Homo sapiens: one gene and its partners. The protein of the gene in region 1 purifies or fractionates together with the protein of each later gene. This does not show direct contact. Each region holds a gene or a part of one and is shown in the gene's direction. Other genes may lie near its edges. The genes, in order: ALG3, ALDH3B1 and KLHL14.

Region 1 (4,279 bases):
AAAGGAGTAGATTGGAATGGGAAGAAAGATCACAAATTCACTTATAGAAATGTTGAGTTTGAGATGCCTGGGCTCACCCAGAGAATGTCAGATAAAGAGTTAGATTAAGAGGTAGTAAAGCCCTGGGAATTGGCTGAAAGTCTGTGTTTTGATGGTCTGGAGGCATGGGGAGGGTGGCAGACAAGTTCTAGACTCAGAAGTAACCAGATCATCTTGTCTTCTTCCAGACACAGAGATTGACTGGAAGGCCTACATGGCCGAGGTAGAAGGCGTCATCAATGGTACCTATGACTATACCCAACTGCAGGGTGACACCGGACCACTTGTGTGAGTGGGGACAGGAAGTTCAGGGAGGATGTGAGGGGCTGGTTAGGTACTAGTCTGTGTGACCTGACCCAGGCTCACATTTTCTCTCATCTTCCAGGTACCCAGCTGGTTTCGTGTACATCTTTATGGGGTTGTACTATGCCACCAGCCGAGGCACTGACATCCGCATGGCCCAGAACATCTTTGCTGTGCTCTACCTGGCTACCTTGCTGCTTGTCTTCTTGATCTATCACCAGACCTGCAAGGTGAGTCCATGCTACCAGGGCTAGAGGGCCCCAGCCTGGGAGGGCTGGGTGGTGGGGATGGCTCAGGCTTGCTGAGCTGACCTTGTACCTTACTGTGTTTTCCCTTTAGGTACCTCCCTTCGTCTTTTTCTTCATGTGCTGCGCCTCTTACCGTGTCCACTCCATCTTTGTGCTGCGGCTCTTCAATGACCCAGTGGCCATGGTGCTGCTCTTCCTCAGTATCAACCTCCTGCTGGCCCAGCGCTGGGGCTGGGGTTGCTGCTTTTTCAGGTCAACACCTCTTCCTTTCTGGTCCCCTCTCGTTTTCTGCATTTCCATCTCTTCCCAATTTCCTGCAGCAGAGGGAGTAAAGGAGTAGCCAAGACAGCATGGGTCACTCAGGGCTCCACAAAGCGAGTCCAGGATCTATAGAAAGTTTCTGCCCTGCCATCCCCCAACATACACACATGCCCTCTTTCCATCCTGTCTTCCTCCCAGACAGCATTCCTTGTTGGAATTAGTCCTTCACATTCTAAATACTCAGTATATGCTCATTCGCATCTAGTAGGCATAGAGACTATGTATCTGCCTCCTGCCTACTCCAGGCTCTTCCCTCCAACAGTTGTGAGTGTAGGTCCCATCTTGGAGTTTGTTGGCGTGGCGGCGGGGGGGAGGTTGCTGTGGTGATGGTGGGGGGTATGTCTTTGGGTGTTGTGTGCATGGCCCTGGAGCTGATCTCCACCCTTCCTCTCCCCTGCTCACCCCAGCCTGGCAGTCTCTGTGAAGATGAATGTGCTGCTCTTCGCCCCTGGGTTACTGTTTCTTCTCCTCACACAGTTTGGCTTCCGTGGGGCCCTCCCCAAGCTGGGAATCTGTGCTGGCCTTCAGGTACCCCCATCTCACCCTTCCTCTTTCTAATCAAGGAGAAGCCACTTGTCTTGATTGAGGGGCTCTATCCCTGAGACTCCCTCAAAGCCAAGAGACAGGGTTTTGGAGTTGATTCTGAGCTAGGGAGCCACTATCGCTAGGCTGTAGTTTCCATAGCTGTAAAATAGGGTATTAAATTTGATGGTCTCTGAGAGCCTTTTTGCTTTTTTTAATTTTAAGTTTTGAGATGGGCTCTTGCTGGGTTGCCCAGGCTGGTCTCAAACTCCTGGGCTCAAGCAATCCTCCTGCCTTGGCCTCCCAAAGCGCTAGGATTTTGGGCATGAGCCACCCTGCCTGGCTTCTGAGAGCCTTCCTTGCTCTGCCCAGTTATGACTTGGTGAATCCACACCTTAAAGCATTGTTATGACCTGCCTCCTGAGCTTCTTTGGCCCCAGGCACTGGCCTGGGCCGGGGGGTGGGGAACGTGGTTTTCCTGCTATTTCTAGTGGGAATTGGGGAACCTCTGAGGCCTACATCCCCGTCCCACACCCCTCAATGAGTAGCATGAAGGCTGGTCATTGGGAATGAGCCTTGGCAGCTCTGCTGACATCACACCAATCCTCAGGTGGTGCTGGGGCTGCCCTTCCTGCTGGAGAACCCCAGCGGCTACCTGTCCCGCTCCTTTGACCTTGGCCGCCAGTTTCTGTTCCACTGGACAGTGAACTGGCGCTTCCTCCCAGAGGCGCTCTTCCTGCATCGAGCCTTCCACCTGGCCCTGTTGACTGCCCACCTCACCCTGCTCCTGCTGTTTGCCCTCTGCAGGTGGCACAGGTGAGAAAAGGCAGTAGTGCCATGGGCAGAGTTGGGGGAAGGAGTGAAGGGCCTAAGCCTTAGGGGCTGCTTGGGGGAAGTGTCAGTTAAGCTCATGGGGTGAGTCTAGAGTTTGACTCACAAAAGGGGCTTGATAACTGTCTGAATGGCTTTTCTCCAGGACAGGGGAAAGTATCTTGTCGCTGCTGAGGGATCCCTCCAAAAGGAAGGTTCCACCCCAGCCCCTTACACCCAACCATATCCTTTAAATTGTGGGAAGGTAAGTCTTGCCCTCTCTAGGTGCTGACAGAGTCCTGGTCAGGTATCCCTTGACAGCTGGTGACCTGGGCGAGGAAAGGGGACCCCAATCATAGAAGTCCTATTCTGCACCACTGTGCTGAGCACTTCACATATTGAAGGATATTTGATTCTTAATTCTAAATACGAGCTACTCTTATGAGTACTTCTCCCTGGTACTATCATAAGAGATTTACATATGTTCTAATATTGAAAGCTCACAAGAGACCCCGAGACAGGGAGGTACACTTACATTTACTATTCTCATTTTACAGATGGAAAAATTAAGACTTCATGAGGTTAAGTAACTTACCAAGGTCACACAGCCAGTAAGTTAGGGGTTCAAACCCACAAGACCTTATGGCCCTAGGTATTACTCTCTCCATATTCCATATTTGGTTGAGGAGCAGGTCCAGAGAGGTTAATAAACTTGCCCAAAGGCATGCATCAAGGAATGGCAGAGCCAGAGGGCTATGTGACCTAAAAACTATTGCCCCTCTGTTTTGGGATAGTCCCCCCCACACACACTCCTGCCCTTGGCCTTGACCACCGCATACAGATCGTTTCTACCCTCTTCACCTCCAACTTCATTGGCATCTGCTTCAGCCGCTCCCTCCACTACCAGTTCTACGTCTGGTATTTCCACACACTGCCCTACCTCCTGTGGGCCATGCCTGCACGCTGGCTCACACACCTGCTCAGGTACCAGCTGGGACAACCTGGGGGAGTGGGAAGGGATAGGGAGTTCCTGTTGGGGGTTTATGTCTAGGGCATGAGGAGCTGCAGGTCTGCAGGCCTTGCAACTGGATGAAACGTGGAACCTGTTTCTCATCTCCAGGTTGTTGGTGCTGGGGCTCATCGAGCTCTCCTGGAACACATACCCTTCCACATCCTGCAGCTCTGCTGCCCTGCACATATGCCATGCCGTCATCCTGCTGCAGCTCTGGCTGGGCCCGCAGCCTTTCCCCAAGAGCACCCAACACAGCAAGAAAGCCCACTGAAGTCCACCCCTTTCCCTCAGGACCTGAGTCTACCCTCAGGACCTGGGGTTGGTTGGACTCTGCCCTTCCAAATAAACCTTGCTAAGTCCAACTCTGTGCAACCTACATGGAGGTGGGGGCAGCCGATGCCTGGTCCAGGCTGTGAGGGACACGTATGGAGCAGATAAAGAATTCACTCAAGCAGTCCTAAGAGGCACTTTATTGCATAGGATTTGGGGACTGTGGCTCTCTACCCTTCCACTGTGTTGCAGGGAGCTCAGAGGATGGAGGGGAGTGTGAGTGGGGTGGGAGGAGAGGGAGAGAGCACAGGCAGGCACTTTTTGTGGGGGCAAGAGGGCTCTAGGGAGGGAGTAAGAAGCAGTGGGGGACAGGCTGGCACCAGCCTACACTTTCCCAGCACCAAGAGGCCAGCCCTGGGCGGCAGTGACTTGAGTGTGTTGGGTGGGGCGCCAGCCCAAGCAGCAGGGGGCAGCCTTCACACGTTCGCTGGGCTGTAGCACAGCAGGTGTAGCTGCAGGTTTTGGTCCCAGTGGCGCAGTAGCAGGAAGAGCCCTCGGGCTGCGGCCTTGAGGGCGGCCAGGTCAAGGCCGTCAGGCAAGTGCTGGGCCCGCAGCCAGCAATCAGCCTTGGCCGCTGTCAGTTCCCACTCGTCGAAGGCAGCGGCGCATCGGTGCTCCAGCCAGGCGAGTGCTACGGCAGTGGCCCAGGTCCGGCCCCGCAGGTCGGTGCCGCCCAGCCCTTCCGCCCCCTCGG
Region 2 (7,833 bases), on another chromosome or scaffold:
TTAGCCCCCAAAGTGCTGGGAGTGGGCCCCCCGAGCTTCTCAATTTCCCTGAGGGACCCCAAACTTCTGGGGCCTGGTGCAATCTCTTCCTCCCCTTGTTCCTCTGGGCCTGGGGGTTGTGGCGGTTGCTATGGTTGCCCATCCTGGGCTCTTCCATCACCTGTGCTGTACCACCAATTCCCTGCACTCAATGTCTCCTACTCAAAACACCTGGAGAGGGTCGGGCGCTGTGGCTCACGCCTGCAATCCCAGCACTTTGGCTGGCCAAGGAGGATCACTTGAGCTCAGGAGTTCAAGACCAGCCTCAACAAAGTGAGACAAACCCCCCCCCCCAACCCATCTCTACAAAAAATACAAAAACTAGCCTGGTGTGATGGTGGACACCTGTAGCCCCAGCTACTCAGGAGGCTGAGGTGGGAGAATTGCTTGAGCCCAGGAGGATGAGGCTGCAGTGAGCTGAGATTGTGCCACTGCATTCCAGCGTGGGTGACAGAGTGAGACCTCTCAAACAAACAAACAAACAAAAAACAAAAAAAACAAAAAACAGCCCTGGAGGCACTAAACCCTGACTGATACACCTCCTCTCTCCAGAAAGGATTTTTTTTTTTAGGTGGTTTATGGAGCTGCTCTTGGGGAGCCTGGAGACTATCTAAGAGGCTGATAGGGTGGCCCAGATAAACACACCAGGGTGACCTGCGGGACAGAGATCTGAGCAGGGCCAGCACCTCCACCAACCCATCCAGGTTGCAACAGTGCACAGTCACATCCCCAGGAAGGGGTGGCCAGATCCCCCCGTGCTCACTGTTTGCCAATGCTTTTCTCTATAATAAGCCTTTACTTTCAGTTCTCATTATGAAAATAATCGATGTTCCTTGCAGAAAAGCAAGCAGAAGAGAATAAATATTGCTCTCAACTGGAACTCCCTGAAACAACCTCTTGGAATATTGTTGCCCCGCATTGCACTGACACAGGAGCGTGCTGGGCAGCCCACGTGATTCCCTTCACACCACTTCCCTGGCATGGATGTGATTCCACAATATTTTAAACATTAAAGCCAATGGGGATGATGATCACTGAGTCTGGCTCACAGGATGGTGGGAGGTCCCCAGGTTGGGGTGTGCCAAAGGCTCTGCCCAGTGCCTGGCACAGCAAATGCCCAGGTGGCTGCTGCTTTCCACTGAGACTTGAGGCTCCTGAGAGTTGGTGGCAAAGGGCTCACCCAGAGCTGAAGACTCCAGCCCATTCCTGTGCGAGGGCTCCAGGCACCTTGGAAGCACCGTGGGCCGGGGAGCCAGGCCAGGCTGGTTGTGGATCCCCATGAGTCCTTGTCACTGTGTGGCCCAGCTGGAAAGCATGGTCAATAATGTCTGGGAATTGTGAAAATTGTGTGAAGTGTCTGCACACAGTAGGTGCTCAGTAAAGGTTTGTTGAGTGCGTAAATGAACAAGTGACCCGCATTCACCGTTGCCCGTGAGTTCTGACTGTGTCCTGGGCCCTGGGCCCCTACAGCCTCTAACTTTGCCTCTTCAAGGAGCCAGGGTGGGTCCAGCCTTCAAGACTGCCAGGGAGGGGGTGGGAGGCAGGGCCAGGGCCTCAGGGCCAAGGCCTGGGGCAGCCACTTCCTCAGGAGGGCAAGGAGAGGGGCAGGAGGACATTCACATGCTCTGAGCGCCTACTGAGAACCAGGTGCCCTGTCGGTGCCTTCAGGTCGGCTCTCGTTTCACCCTCGCAGTAGCCATGTGAGGCAGGCAGAGTCAGCCCCCATTTTACAGCTGGGGAAACTGAGGCCCAGTGAGGGGACGTTTCTTTTCAAGGTCACTCGTGGGCAGATGAGGCAGTGAGATGCTCTTGGGCAGGTCTGAGGCCCTGTGAGCCAGGCTCAGGGGCGTGTTTCTGAGAAGTGAGGGAATGAATGAATGAATTATGAATGGATGAATGATTCCACCTGATGCCATGCTCATGCCCTGCCCACACTCCTGTCCTAGAGTCTGGAAGGTAGCTCTCAGACCCTTCCAGAGGGGGCCGGGCACTTGGAATGGTCACAGTTCCGGGCCCACGTGCATGGAATAACTTGTTTCAGCCTCACAATCACTTATGTCCCATTTTACAGATGGGAAGGCAGAGGCACGGGGGGTTAAGACACTAACCTAGGTCACACAGGTAAGTGACAGGACCAGGATTTGAGCCCAGACCTCACACTTAACGCCCTCCATGCCAGGTGCTGAGATCCATGCCTGCCGAACCCTCTCATTCACCCACAGATGCCCCCGGGACTGTAGTCAGCCCCATTCTCACATGGGAACACTGAGGCCCAAAGAGGCGAAGCGTCAGCCCAGCAAGGAGGAGGCAGGGCAGGCGGGGCCGCAGCTGTCTGGCCCGGAGCCCTGAGCAACCCCTCCACCCACTCCCCCTGGCTGGCCTGGGCCTTGGCAGACCTCACCCCAGAGCTGGCTCCAAAAGTGAGTCCTCCTGGTGCCCTACCCAGAGGGCTCCCCATTTACCCTGGGCTCCTCAACAAAGATGGGACTCCCAGGCCCTACTGAGCCTCTGGAGCTTTGAGGAGTAGTGAGGGGCACCCAACCCAGAGTGGGGAGGGCCCAGCCCTCCTGGGAGGTGTGTGGCCTCCCTTGGGGGGAGCCTCACTCCCAGGGAAGGCTAGGAGTTCTGTCCCGGGAGGACAGGCCTCTTCGGGGGCCTCCTCCCAGGTTGCTCCTGCATTCATGACAAGTTCGGCCCCTGTGAGTTGGGGGAAATTCTTCAACAGCTCCCTGGCCAGGGAGGGGACCCTCGGGATCCTGAAACACCCCTCCCACCTGCCAGTACCCGCCAAGATGGGTCCCTGATTTGCTGTGTGGCCTTAGACCAGTGGCTGCCCTCTCTGGGCCTCACTCCCAGCTGAGACCTACAGGCTCAGCCCCTGCCCAGCCCTGCCTGGCACCCGCTCAATCTGGCTGAGCTCCAGAGAATGGCAGGGCTGGGCTGTCACATGCTGAGCCACGTGACTGGCAGTGGCTGGGGGCTCCATCCCACACAGAGGACAGGGGCTCTGCAGTCCTTCACCCCCACCCTAACTATCTAATCACGGGCCACCGGTGTGGGCATGGTCCAGAAGACCTCACCGCCCTCCCAGGTAGGCAGGGAGCTGGCGGGTGGGGGGGGCCATGATGAGCACCTCCCAGGTGCCACGTTGGCCCAGAGGCCCCGGGGCCGGGAGCTACGGAGGCCCAGGGCACCAGGGAGATGGTAGCAGCGGCAGGCCCAGGAAGGGGCATAGAGGAGGCTCTTCCTCCACACCTGTCACCCTGTCCCCTGCCTGTCCACACCCACAGCAGCTTGCACATCATCCCCACAGCACGCTGGCTCTGACAGGTGTATCCGGGGCGGGCTGGGGGCAGGCAGGGACAGGCTTAGGCACAGCTGCCTGTGCCGAACTTGAGGAAGATCGGGACTACAGGAACCACCAAGGCGACACGTGGCATCATGACCACGGTCCTAAGCAGAGAGGCAGGCACTCCTCCTGGGAGGCAGAGGGGACATCCGAAACGGGTGCAGCCCCAGCTCTGGAGCAAGAAGCTCTGCCACACACACGCCCCATGTTCACATCCCACCCCCTCTCTGCCCCCACTTCCTCGTTTGTAAAATGTTAGATCTGCAGAAAGACAGGCTCTATGAATGGGGCGGCCCATGGGGTGGTGTGGAGGAACACGGAAGCACAGGGCGCTGGGAGAGGAGCAGGCATGAGGTATGGTCCCTAAGATGGTATTTCTAGACTCCAGCCACCTTTGGGTCTGACCTCTTTGTTTTGCAGAAGGGGAAACTGAGTCTTGGGTAGGGTGTAGCAAGACAAGCCACAGACAAAACACCTCAGACACTGGATTAAAGAAGGAAGAGGTTTATTCAGCTGGGAGCATCAGCAGACTTGCGTCAAGAGCCGAGCTCCCTGAAAAAGACATTCTTGGCCTTTTTAAAGGCTTACAACTTTAAGGGGTCCACGTGAAAGGGTCGTGATAAATCGAGCAAGCTCGGGGAACGTGACCGGGGGCTGCATGCGTCAGCTAACAGAACAGAAAGTTTTGCAGTGCTTTCTCATACAATGTCTGGAATTTACAGATAACACAAGTAGTTTAGGTCAGGGGTTGATATTATTATCACTTTTTTTTAACTACCAGGGCCAGGTGGTGGCGCCAAGGTCTTCTGGCTATTTCTCTTACTTCTGTTTTTTTCTAACTTTTTGCCTTCTCTCTTTCCTCCTGTCTTGTAAACCAGGCAAGGTGGTAGGAGGAGGGCAGCAGGAGTAGTAGTGGTCTTATTCCTTAGGGGAGGCATTGAGGGAAGGCTGGGAGTGGGGGGTCGAGACTTCCTTGCTATTCTGGGCCATAACATTCCACATAATATTATAATAGAATATAATTAATACAATAATAGTTCCCCACCCCACACCGGGATTCCCAGGGCCCACTGCCCCACTCCTCCTCCTCAGGCTGGCCCTCAGCTCAGTGCTCAGCCCTGCTGCACAGCCTCTCCTCCTCCTCCTCAGGCTGCCCCTCAGCTCGGAGCTCAGCCCTGCTGTGTGGCTCTAGCCTGGCGCCCTCTGGGCGTTGACTTCTTCTCTGTGGTCTGGGAGGAGATGTCGAGGCCCCCGAGGGAGGCGGTGGTGAAATCTTGGCTTGCAGCCTCCAGCCCGCCCAGAGCCAGAGTCAGGCACGAGGCTAGGGCAACTCCGCCCCACCCCTCCCCCGGGGACTGGCCCTGCGTTGGACATTTCTTAACAGCAGGGCCACCAGGCAGAGCGGGACAGCCAGGAGGAAGGGCAGCTTGGCAGAGCCTCAGGTAGAGTATCCCGGGGAGGCTGGGGCTGTAGTGGGCCAGCAGTCGGGCCAGAGTCCAGCTCAGCAACTCCGGGTTACAGGCAGCCCAGGCGGGCCTAGCCACCGGCAGCTGCACTCAGAGGCCACTGTGTCCTGGCTGAGCTCATCTGCCTGCCTGCTGGGGGAGAAAGCGGAAGGAGGAGAGGCAGATCTGGGGAGTGGCAGCGAGGTCCCGGGCACCCCCCTGGCCAGCAGGCACCCTTCCGTTGTCCGAGCTGGGTTGCCACCGCCTCCTTTTCCTGGGATTCCCGGACACCCTCCAAGGGAACCAAGGGAACAGCTCTGGGTCCAGCTGCCCCAGGAAGGACTGTGCGCCCCTTCCCCACAGGGGTCAAGTATCCCTTCCAGCAACAGCCGTTTCCTGGGCACCAGCCTGCATGCCCAGTGCTGATGCAGGGATGTGGCCATGAATGACTCTGGGAAAGAATCATTCTTAGCAATGGACTTTGTCAGGGTCCAAGAAAGGAGTGGCCAGCCAGCCCCGCCCCGCCTGCAGGAGGCACTTCTCATCCCGGGAACTGTGCCCCATCAGGGAGCCGAGGCTGTTCAGCCTCTTTGTGACCCGGGGCTGGGTTGGCCCGAGCCACCAATGAGGGGATACGCTGGTCCCTGGCTCCCCAAGGGAGGGGCTGCTGAGCTTTGGGAGGCCTCATGAAAATCCAGCTTAAGGCCATCAAAAGACAAAATGACAACACATTTAGTTATAGATCAAATTGGCTTCTATTCATGATTCGTGAATCCGGACAGCCTCCATTCTACAAAATGGAGTGAGAGCTCCCACCAGGCAGTGGCAGAGCAGGGGGTTCATAAGGCAGAAAGGAGGAAACAGAAAAATAGGAAACACCAAACCGCCTAATACCGGATCGCTGCAGACTGCTTTTTTCTAAGCGGACTGCTTTTTTCTAAGGGGTAAGGCAGAGGGGACCTGATGATGCCGGCTCAGGTGGACTGGAATCTCCTGCTTCCCGGAGAAACTGGTCTGTGGTTTTGGGCTCTGTCTGCTTCCTTAAAGCTTCGGTTTGATGATGTGGCATTTGGCATGAGTGCCTCCATTTTGGTTTGGTCTGGTCTGTTGGGGCCTAGTACAGGAGCTCAGTTCAAAATCACAGCCTCTCATCATGTTTGTTTAATGAAGCTACACTGCAGGAGATCAGAATCGGAGACCCTGCGGTATTGGGCCTGTGGGTCCCCTGAAGTTGGCCTAGTGATCCCCGCCTTCTGGCTGCCCTGATGGGGGTCCCCCAGGCCCTCTACCCACCATGTTCAGTCCCTCTGTCACCACATCCCTGTCCTCAGTTGGGTCTCAGGGTGATGTCCTTGTCTCCCCAACACCCACCTTGGATCAAGGCCCCTTCAGGCCCCTGCCCCAGGGGTCTCCTCCCTGAGCCCTCCTCTGGTACATCCGTCCTCCATGGATACTGAGCACTTCCCGGGGTCCCAGTGCTTGAATTCTCCCGACAGTGGTATGGGTGCCACAGGCAGTGCCCAATTTTACAGATGGGAAACGTGAATACAAAGAGGTCAAGCAACCTGCCCAAGGTCTCCCCACTCACACATGTGGTTGCTGCAGTTTAAACCCAGGTCATTGGGCCCCCAGACCATGCCATGCTGGGAGGATGCTCTTAGAAGGCCCATGGTGTAGATGAGGAAACTGAGGCAGGAAGAATGAGAGAACGGGCAGAGCCTCCGTTTCCCTGGAATCCAACCCACTTGATAGGCCAGGGTGTGAACGAGCAGGGAGTCCCTGCCCAGGGACGGTCCCTGCTGTGAGGTTGGGGGCAGCGGCTCGGCCAGCCATTCACTCCCTGTGATATGTCAGCCCCGTTCCTCCCCACTCTGTTCCCGGAGCCTGTGGGCACCCACAGCGAGCACCCAGGCTGGCATAGTGCCCAGCACATGGGCACCTGAGTATTGTTTTTAGAGGCCCGTGGCCTTGAGAGGAAGTGGCTGGTCCTGCCCTGGCCCCCAGGCCAGAGGAAACAGCCGCTATCTTCATCACCAAATGATGTGGCAACTCCCCCCCACCCCAGAAGCTGCAGGTCTGGGCCAAATGCACCTCAACCTGTGATGGGGGGCCACGCCCCAGAGACCCTTGGGCCCATCAGCCCCTGGACCTCAGTGGCTCAGCCGCAGGAGGCAAGAGGCAGTCTCAGACCCCACAACCTAAGCAGTGTGGGGAGTGGCAGCAATAGTGAGGAGGGAGGCCGAGGAAATGGAATCCAAACAGCAAGAGACCTCCCCTCACCGGTCACCCCTCCCACAGCTGGCCTACCGGAGTCCACCCAGCCTTGGGTCTGCCGTCCAGGCCCCAGCCCAGTGTCCCTTCCCCCAAGGACTTGGCTGCCCATCCCCAGGGGACTGTGAGGGAGGTGGGAGCTGAGGTGGATAGCCTTCTGCTCTTCTGGATTTGGGTTTTCCAATGTGAGGAGCTGGGTGGTATCAGGCAAGCTCTGGCCCTCTCTGAGCCTCAGCCTCCATCTCCTTCAGTGGGGTGAATAGTGGTCCCTCAGTGGGCGGCCGTGGTGGTGAAATGAGCGAGGGCAGGCATGGGGATCACACTCCTTACAACCTCACACTGTGGGATGAGTGCCGCGGGGGTGGGCTTGGGGGACCCCAGCCCAGTGCCTGATTCAGGAGTTCCCTATTCTGTGTGTCCACAATGGCTGCCCAGCACCCTCGGGAGATAACAGGCCCAGGATCCCCCCAATCTCAGGCAGAAGGCGGCCTTGGCTTCTCCGCTTGCCAGGGTCCTGCCCTGGGCACTCCCTGGGGGCCTCAGTCCAGAGTGAGTGACCCGTAGGGGCAATGCCAGGGCTGGTTGCCCTGTGGGAGAGATGTGTCCTGTGGCCCTGGTGAGTTGGTTTCAGCGTTGCTAGGAGGGTTGCTGGAATGTTCCCTGCAGAACTCCATCCCCCACAGAGCTCCCGGCCCACAGTCCACCATTCACGTTACGTGCCTTGCATTT
Region 3 (6,968 bases), on another chromosome or scaffold:
AACGGATTTTCTTTACTACTGTGATGCTTACCTTTTTATTCTTTATCTCTTTCAACGGTGCTCTTTCATTTCAAGCCACACACCATTCCTTTACGTCGACATGTTTTGTATTAACTTTGTATCCTTCTATGTTAAAATGTGATTTCTTTGCATTTCTTTTGCACAAGATATTGTCTAAATGCTCTAGGATCTTCTAACATTTAAGGTTAGGTTTGGACAGAAAGACTCAGGTAATGACAATCTAAATGAGAAATAGTGTGCACACATCAAAACTGGGTTAGCTCAAGGAGGCATCATGGTGAGGAGAGGATATAGACATTGTATCTAAGCCTAGGTTTGATTCTAGTTATGCACTTTCTAGTTGTGTGGTCTCACTCAAGACACTTAACCTCATGTCTGTAAAGGAAGGATAATTATCCTTGCCTTGATGGTTTCTGTGAGGATTACAGTTCCCATGTATAACATTGTCACAGAGAAGGCACATATATCTTCAAATGATGCCTCCAAGGTCAGAACCTGGAATTTGCCCAAGTGCTCATTCTAAGTGTATATGCTTCAAAAATTATAATCAATAATATTAATGGTAAAGGAAAGGAATATACTCTGGTGTTGCAGTGAGTACATTGTTCTGTTGTTCCACCATCTATGGGATTTATTTTCTGTAGGAAGTTAGTAACCGAAATAACCTGTCTACCTCTTCAAGAACAAAAATTTCTCCACCTTTTTATTCATCTTCTCAATTATTTTAAAGAATCCAGTATGTTGGTTACTTTAGAATACACACTGAGATTGTCAGCTAGCAAATATCCATAGCCTGCATTTAACTACGGGAAAAATAGATAAAAACATTAAGGGTTTGACCTGCTTGGTGAGCACGAAGCTCCCACTAGGTGTTTCTCACCCTCTAAATTAAAGGCAGGGCTCCAGTAGAGACCAGGAACTTAAGTTGTTCTCAGTGACCTAGGTAGTGCCCCAGACACCAAGAACCCTATCAGAAGCTGTAGGAGAAGCTCTTCAGTGAAAGTTACTCAGCCTTCTACTCTAAACCTTGATTCTTGGTAAATACTAGAAACGATTTACATCATCAGAGTTGTTTATAAACATAGTCAAATTGTGGAAAAGGTAAAAGATGCTGAACAACATATTTTTAATCTATTAAAACATTCTGAGAGAGTTAAATATTCATTTGAGAAAAAGCAATACAATTTAGTCTGCAAGAGTCTGAGTTCTGAAGCCTCTCCTGGATTCAAATCTCAACCTATCTACTTACTGACTTGTGACTTACTCAAGTAATTGACTTTCTCTGTCTCTCAGTTCCCTTATCTATAAAATGAAAGTGAGGACAGGGACTATCTCATAGAGTGATGGAAGGGATTGAATGAGTTCATTTAAATAAAGCCCTTAGAAAAGAAAACTAGCATATTGTAAGTGCCTTGTACAATGCTTGCTTAAACTATTATTTTAAACATTTTTAAATAAGGTTTTAATAAACCATTTTAATAAGATCTATCCACATATAATCAACCTTTGCTAATGACATCTGCTCAGGCATTCTTGCTTTGAAGTAATCTAAAACAACTAGAGTTTCTTTGGGGTTTTCTAGGTCTTTCTGACATTTCTCCCAATCTCAGTGAATTTATGCATTTGTGTCTTCAAAAACATAATTATCTATTTTGGCTTGAGACTTGTTTTTAAAAGAAGCCCTAGCCTTAAATTGGGACCCTGAGCATTTATCATTTTGTTGTTCCACTTTGTTCTGTCACTTAGGTTTCTCCCACCTTGATGTAATGCTTGTGGAATGCTATGACCCAAAAGGTGACCAGTGGAATATACTCCAAACTCCCATTTTGGAGGGTCGAAGTGGCCCTGGCTGTGCAGTGCTTGATGACAGCATTTACCTTGTGGGAGGCTACAGCTGGAGTATGGTATGTGTCCACATTTACTGCATCCTCCTTTATTTCGTTTGTGCTTACGTTTTCTGTATCCTTCCAAATGTGTTATCCTCCACACATGTACCTTTTAAGAGTATCATACTTACATGCAAGCAGTCAGTTGCTTTAGATAGTAAAATAGGATCAGCCTGGTGGCTGTTGAACTGGCTTGCTAGCTGATCAACAGCATCACAAGGTGCAGTAGGTCTCCCTTCTCTCCTGTCTCTATGACCTTGTGATTCTGGCTTCCCAACTGAAAGTCAAACTGAGGTGATTTTACAAATGTTCTGCAGTTCAGTAAGAGAGTCTGAAAGGTTTCTGACCGGTAAGGCATGAAAAATGGAAATTCATTCTCCAATATTCATGAAATCTATTTAGGATGTGTGATTTGCCATTGATTTTTCCCCTTATTTTCCCTCTTTATCGTGAAATTTTCTAAACATACACAAAAATCGAGATTAGAATGGGACTTCATTAACCCATCATTCAGCTTCAACATCCATCAACATTTTGCCACACTTCATCTATCCCCACTTTTAAAATCTTTGGCTCAGGCAATATGAAGTAGATCCCAGATGTCATATCATTTCACCCTAAATGCTTCAGTATTTACCTTTTAAAAATCATTAACTTACGTAAATACACTCACACTCCAAAAAATTAACAATAATTCCTTTATATCCATTTTTATATTCAAATATTTGCCATTGACTTTTAAAAAAGATGTATTTTTCAAATTGACATATCCAAATCAGGACCCAACAAGTCTTTCTTATATTTCATCATTATGTCTCATATATCTCTTGCAATCTAGAACATTACCCTGACTCTTTTTGTTTCATGCCATTGACTCCTTGACAAAAGAGGTTCAGTTATACAGAATACCCTACATTCTGAAATTGGCTAATGACTTCCTTGTGGAGTCATTTGAAATAGTCCTCCATCTGCATATTTTCTGGAGACTGGAAGTTAGAGATAAGGGCATAATTAAATTCAGCTTCTTTCTTTTTCCTTTATTTATTTCTTTCGTTAACTTCTTTTTTCTTTCTTAGCAAAAACACCTGCGAAGGTGGCTTTGTAGTTCAAATTACAGTACATCAGGAGACACATTGGGTCTAGCAGATTACATATTCACTTTTAAAATGATGAACATTTTTATATTTTCCTGATTACCTGTGTTAGTTTTGTAAGATTAATTTGGTGGTTTTAATAATATTATTTGGTTTTATTTCTTTTGCCTCTAACAAGATTGTGACATAAAGTTTTGGGGAGCTTTAAAACATTATTAGTTATATAGGCAAATATGTATTGACATATATAACTAGATATTCATATGTGCACTTGTTTGCTTGTACAAATTGTTAGCTGCAAGAATGTATTTGTTTGGAAGCAGACATTGGGGCATTTTTAGAAAAATAATTATTAGGTTGGTTGGGTCTTTCGTTTTTTTCCTATGATAAACACAAAGCTGCCTTGGTTTGGGGAGGAAAAGGTTACACAAGCACTAGCCTCTAAAGTTGACAAAGAAAACAAGATTAAGGACATTTTATTTCTCATGTGGCCTCTTGAAAATAAATAAATCAATATATGAGAAAGTTGACAAACTTTCATTTCCAGTTTACTTTGAACTGGTTTTCAATCCTAGCTCTGATTCTTCACAGTAGCAAAATTAAAATGGAGAAGTGAGACAACAATCTGAAATATAATTGTCTTAACTATTTGAATGTTTAAGGTAAATTTGTTCTCTTTTCTTTTTTAACTTAAACCAGCTGGATAACTTCTATTTTTGGTATATTATTTTTATGTATGTATTTCTTTCTTTAAGCCAAGATCTTACTCTGTTGTCTAGGCTGGAGTACAGTGGCATGATCAGAGCTCATTGTAACCACGATCCTCCTGTCCTAGCCTCCCAAGCAGCTGGGACTACAGATGTGCACTATCATGCCCAATTTGTTTTTATCTTTTTTAGTGTGTGTGTAAAGATGAGGTCTTGCTATGTTGCCCAGGCTGGTCTCAAACCCCTGGGCTCAAGTGATCCTCTCGCCCTAGCTGCCAAAGCTCTGTGATTACAGGTATGAGCCACTGGGCCCAGCCAATTTAGGATTTGTTGAGCATCTAGGATCCTCTAGGTATTTATTTAACTTTTATTATTAGTCACACACACAAAAAAATTTTTTTTGAAATTTTGTCAATCTTAGCTTTTTCTTTGGAATAGAACAGTTTAAAATCCATTGCTTTCATTTGGAATTATTTAGCAAGAATGGAGAACAGATATTTTCTTTTCAATATATTAATAAATATGATCAGTAACATTGCCATTGCACTTCTCTAGCTTCCTTCTCTAAATGCTCCCTCCTCTGTCATTACAGGGGGCCTACAAGTCATCTACAATATGCTATTGTCCAGAGAAAGGAACCTGGACAGAACTCGAAGGAGATGTAGCAGAACCGTTGGCAGGCCCTGCCTGTGTGACAGTTATTCTGCCCTCTTGTGTACCATACAACAAATAACACCAGGAAACTCTGGAATGAACAGTATCACATTCTAGGAAGCAATGGCAGGTGACATCACTATTATAATAGGAACAATGCATTCTAATGGTACAACTGCCAAAACCCACCCTTGGTTTCTGATGATTTATAAGTAACTACAAAAGAAAGAGACCTGTTCTTGAACAGATACTATGTCTATAACTCAGATCGCACCAAACTTCCTGTGGTGACAGACTCTTCCATTTCAGACTGGTTTTAACTTATCCCAGCTTTACAAAAACTCTTCATGTGAATCTTAACTTGCAAAAGGAGAAAGATAAAATACAGAAGACTGGCCCCAGAGAGACCTCAGATCAGTATTGTGCATTGTAGTCTACCTGCATGTGATCTATGTTGACATTTCGGGGATATTGTGTTCAAGAATGATTCCAAATTTGAGCCACCAAAATACACTGCATTACAGAAATTGCCACTTGATTCTGTACTCTTAACCTTTGGCTACTTCACAGACTCCATTGGCAACACTGTTATTGAAAATCATGTAAGATTAAAGAGAGGCATTTTCGTTTCTATACAACTTCATTTCATACACCTTCTGCCCTTACAGCACCTCATGGGATCAGAAAAGAGAAAGATGTTGGCTCTTGTAATAAATGCTTTCTACCCTATAGGTTCTAGGCTAGACAGAGTCGTCATTTCTGTGTCCTCAATTTTATCTGAAAGATTAAAACAAAATATATTATGTCACTATTCAGTTCATGGAGGTTTGTGCTTTTTCATATTTTGTGATATATAAGTAGTGAACACACATGTTATTTACTTCAAAAGACAGGATTGACAAATTCAGTCAATACTATTTTAGAGATTCTGTTAGATGATATGTCTGACCCAAATTTAATCCATAATAAAAAAAAATGGGAGATTGTTTTCAGGAATTCAGGGATGAAAAGAAAGAATAATTTCCATTAAGTAGAATTCCAGTTGTCTTTCTGTTTCTAAAACACAGAACTTACAAGAGCCACAGGAGCCAATTATAGCACCTGACAGAATACTTCTCCTCTTCCTCACCTTCGGGTGCCTCTAGACACTTGACTTACGATCGTTATTCCCCCAATTCATCATATTTTGTTTGTTATCACCAGAGATGCCTGAACTCAGTTAAGCGAGCAATTGCTAGTTGTCTTGAGGAGCATGAGGAATTCAGGAGCAGAAGGTCAGGATAGCATGAGATAGTCTCAATGTGGCCAACCAAAAGGACAAAACTGACAGGAATGCACATTCGATTTTCAAGCCCTCCAGAGCTTGAACAACAACTTTAGGAGTAAATAAAAGCCTAAAATATATTTTAACCATCCAGAGATGGTGTTGAATCCTTCAACAAATGTGTCATTCAAAACAGTAATTAGGGAAATCCCACAGATGAAAAATGCCTTAGTGATAAGCTTTCATGGCAGAGCACGTCAAGATAAATGGGTATACTGGAATCCGATGCCGTTTCTACAGTAAAGTGCAATCTTCGTTGTTTTTGTATTTATTTGTATGTTCAGATCCAAAGGATCCGTTGTAAAAATATATATATATAAATATATGTATATCCAGTGCAATCAACTGTCATTTCTTTTTCCTTAAAACATATGAGTATATAGAAAGAAAAGTTACAGTACTCTGTGGGAAAATCTCAGCTGACATCATGAATAGAATGAGGTCTGCTTCAGAACCTTTTGTTGTCAACTGTCACTGTTTCTTCCAAAAGTCACAATTTGTACAAGAACCTTTGCTTTCCTTAGACTTGTTCTGCATTTTATTTTTTATTTCTCACCAAAATAAAAGCATTTATGAGAATTATAAGTAAAGCTTTCTGTATTTCAGAGAGACATAAGTTACTAGAAAGTGAAAAGTGAATAAATAAGTCACAGAGAATGTAAATTTTGTACAGTATTAGAATGTGTAAATGAAGCTTGCTTGGAAGGGGAAAACTTTAAATAAAAACTTTATGTACTAATTCAACTGTCTCTCATATCCTACTTACATATGTATAAATCTCTACATTAAACCGTTTGAAGGTTTGTGATATGTAAATGCCTAAATATTTTTGTTCTGAAGCTGTGATTTACAAGTGTTATTTGGCTTTCTCACAATATGTAAATGTATACAGTATGGACAGTGCTAAAATTATGGAATACTTCTGGAAAATGCTGTGAGTTAAAAATCATATGAGTGGAATCTGATGTTTTCACTACAAGAGTGTTATAATAAGACATAACTTATCTGAGATCAAATAACTAAATATTTATACACATTATTAGAAGCACCATTTGTGTTAAAAATAACTGCACCCTTTTTAAAGAATAAGTGAGTCACACATTTAATTAAATCAATTATCAAATACATAGTATTTAATTTTATTCTCTTTTGAAGATCTGATGAAGTAGTTGTACAGGGCAATTAGAGGGGCTATGGGAGACATAGGGGGAACTAAGGCTTGCAGTTAAGGGTAGCAGTTGGGCAGCCTTCCAGGCAAAGAGCTGTGTAAGATCAGGAGCTA

What was found.
Region 2: the proteins of ALG3 (region 1) and ALDH3B1 purify together in Homo sapiens (affinity purification with mass spectrometry; 3 studies listed by BioGRID and IntAct, with this or other methods). This does not show direct contact.
Region 3: the proteins of ALG3 (region 1) and KLHL14 purify together in Homo sapiens (affinity purification with mass spectrometry; 3 studies listed by BioGRID and IntAct, with this or other methods). This does not show direct contact.

The regions. Positions count from the first base shown.
Region 1 is NC_000003.12:184,241,761-184,246,039, reverse strand, and holds the end of ALG3 (dol-P-Man:Man(5)GlcNAc(2)-PP-Dol alpha-1,3-mannosyltransferase), read left to right. Parts: intron 1-227; coding exon 228-327; intron 328-424; coding exon 425-572; intron 573-681; coding exon 682-842; intron 843-1,318; coding exon 1,319-1,439; intron 1,440-2,043; coding exon 2,044-2,249; intron 2,250-2,409; coding exon 2,410-2,486; intron 2,487-3,082; coding exon 3,083-3,227; intron 3,228-3,363; coding exon 3,364-3,526; 3' UTR 3,527-3,739; downstream 3,740-4,279. Other genes in the region: VWA5B2 (von Willebrand factor A domain-containing protein 5B2), read right to left, coding at 4,002-4,279. UniProt on the Homo sapiens protein: Dol-P-Man:Man(5)GlcNAc(2)-PP-Dol alpha-1,3-mannosyltransferase that operates in the biosynthetic pathway of dolichol-linked oligosaccharides, the glycan precursors employed in protein asparagine (N)-glycosylation.
Region 2 is NC_000011.10:68,005,563-68,013,395, forward strand, and holds the start of ALDH3B1 (aldehyde dehydrogenase family 3 member B1), read left to right. Parts: upstream 1-4,764; 5' UTR 4,765-4,830; intron 4,831-7,833. UniProt on the Homo sapiens protein: Oxidizes medium and long chain saturated and unsaturated fatty aldehydes generated in the plasma membrane into non-toxic fatty acids. May have a protective role against the cytotoxicity induced by lipid peroxidation.
Region 3 is NC_000018.10:32,672,130-32,679,097, reverse strand, and holds the end of KLHL14 (kelch-like protein 14), read left to right. Parts: intron 1-1,767; coding exon 1,768-1,925; intron 1,926-4,300; coding exon 4,301-4,441; 3' UTR 4,442-6,425; downstream 6,426-6,968.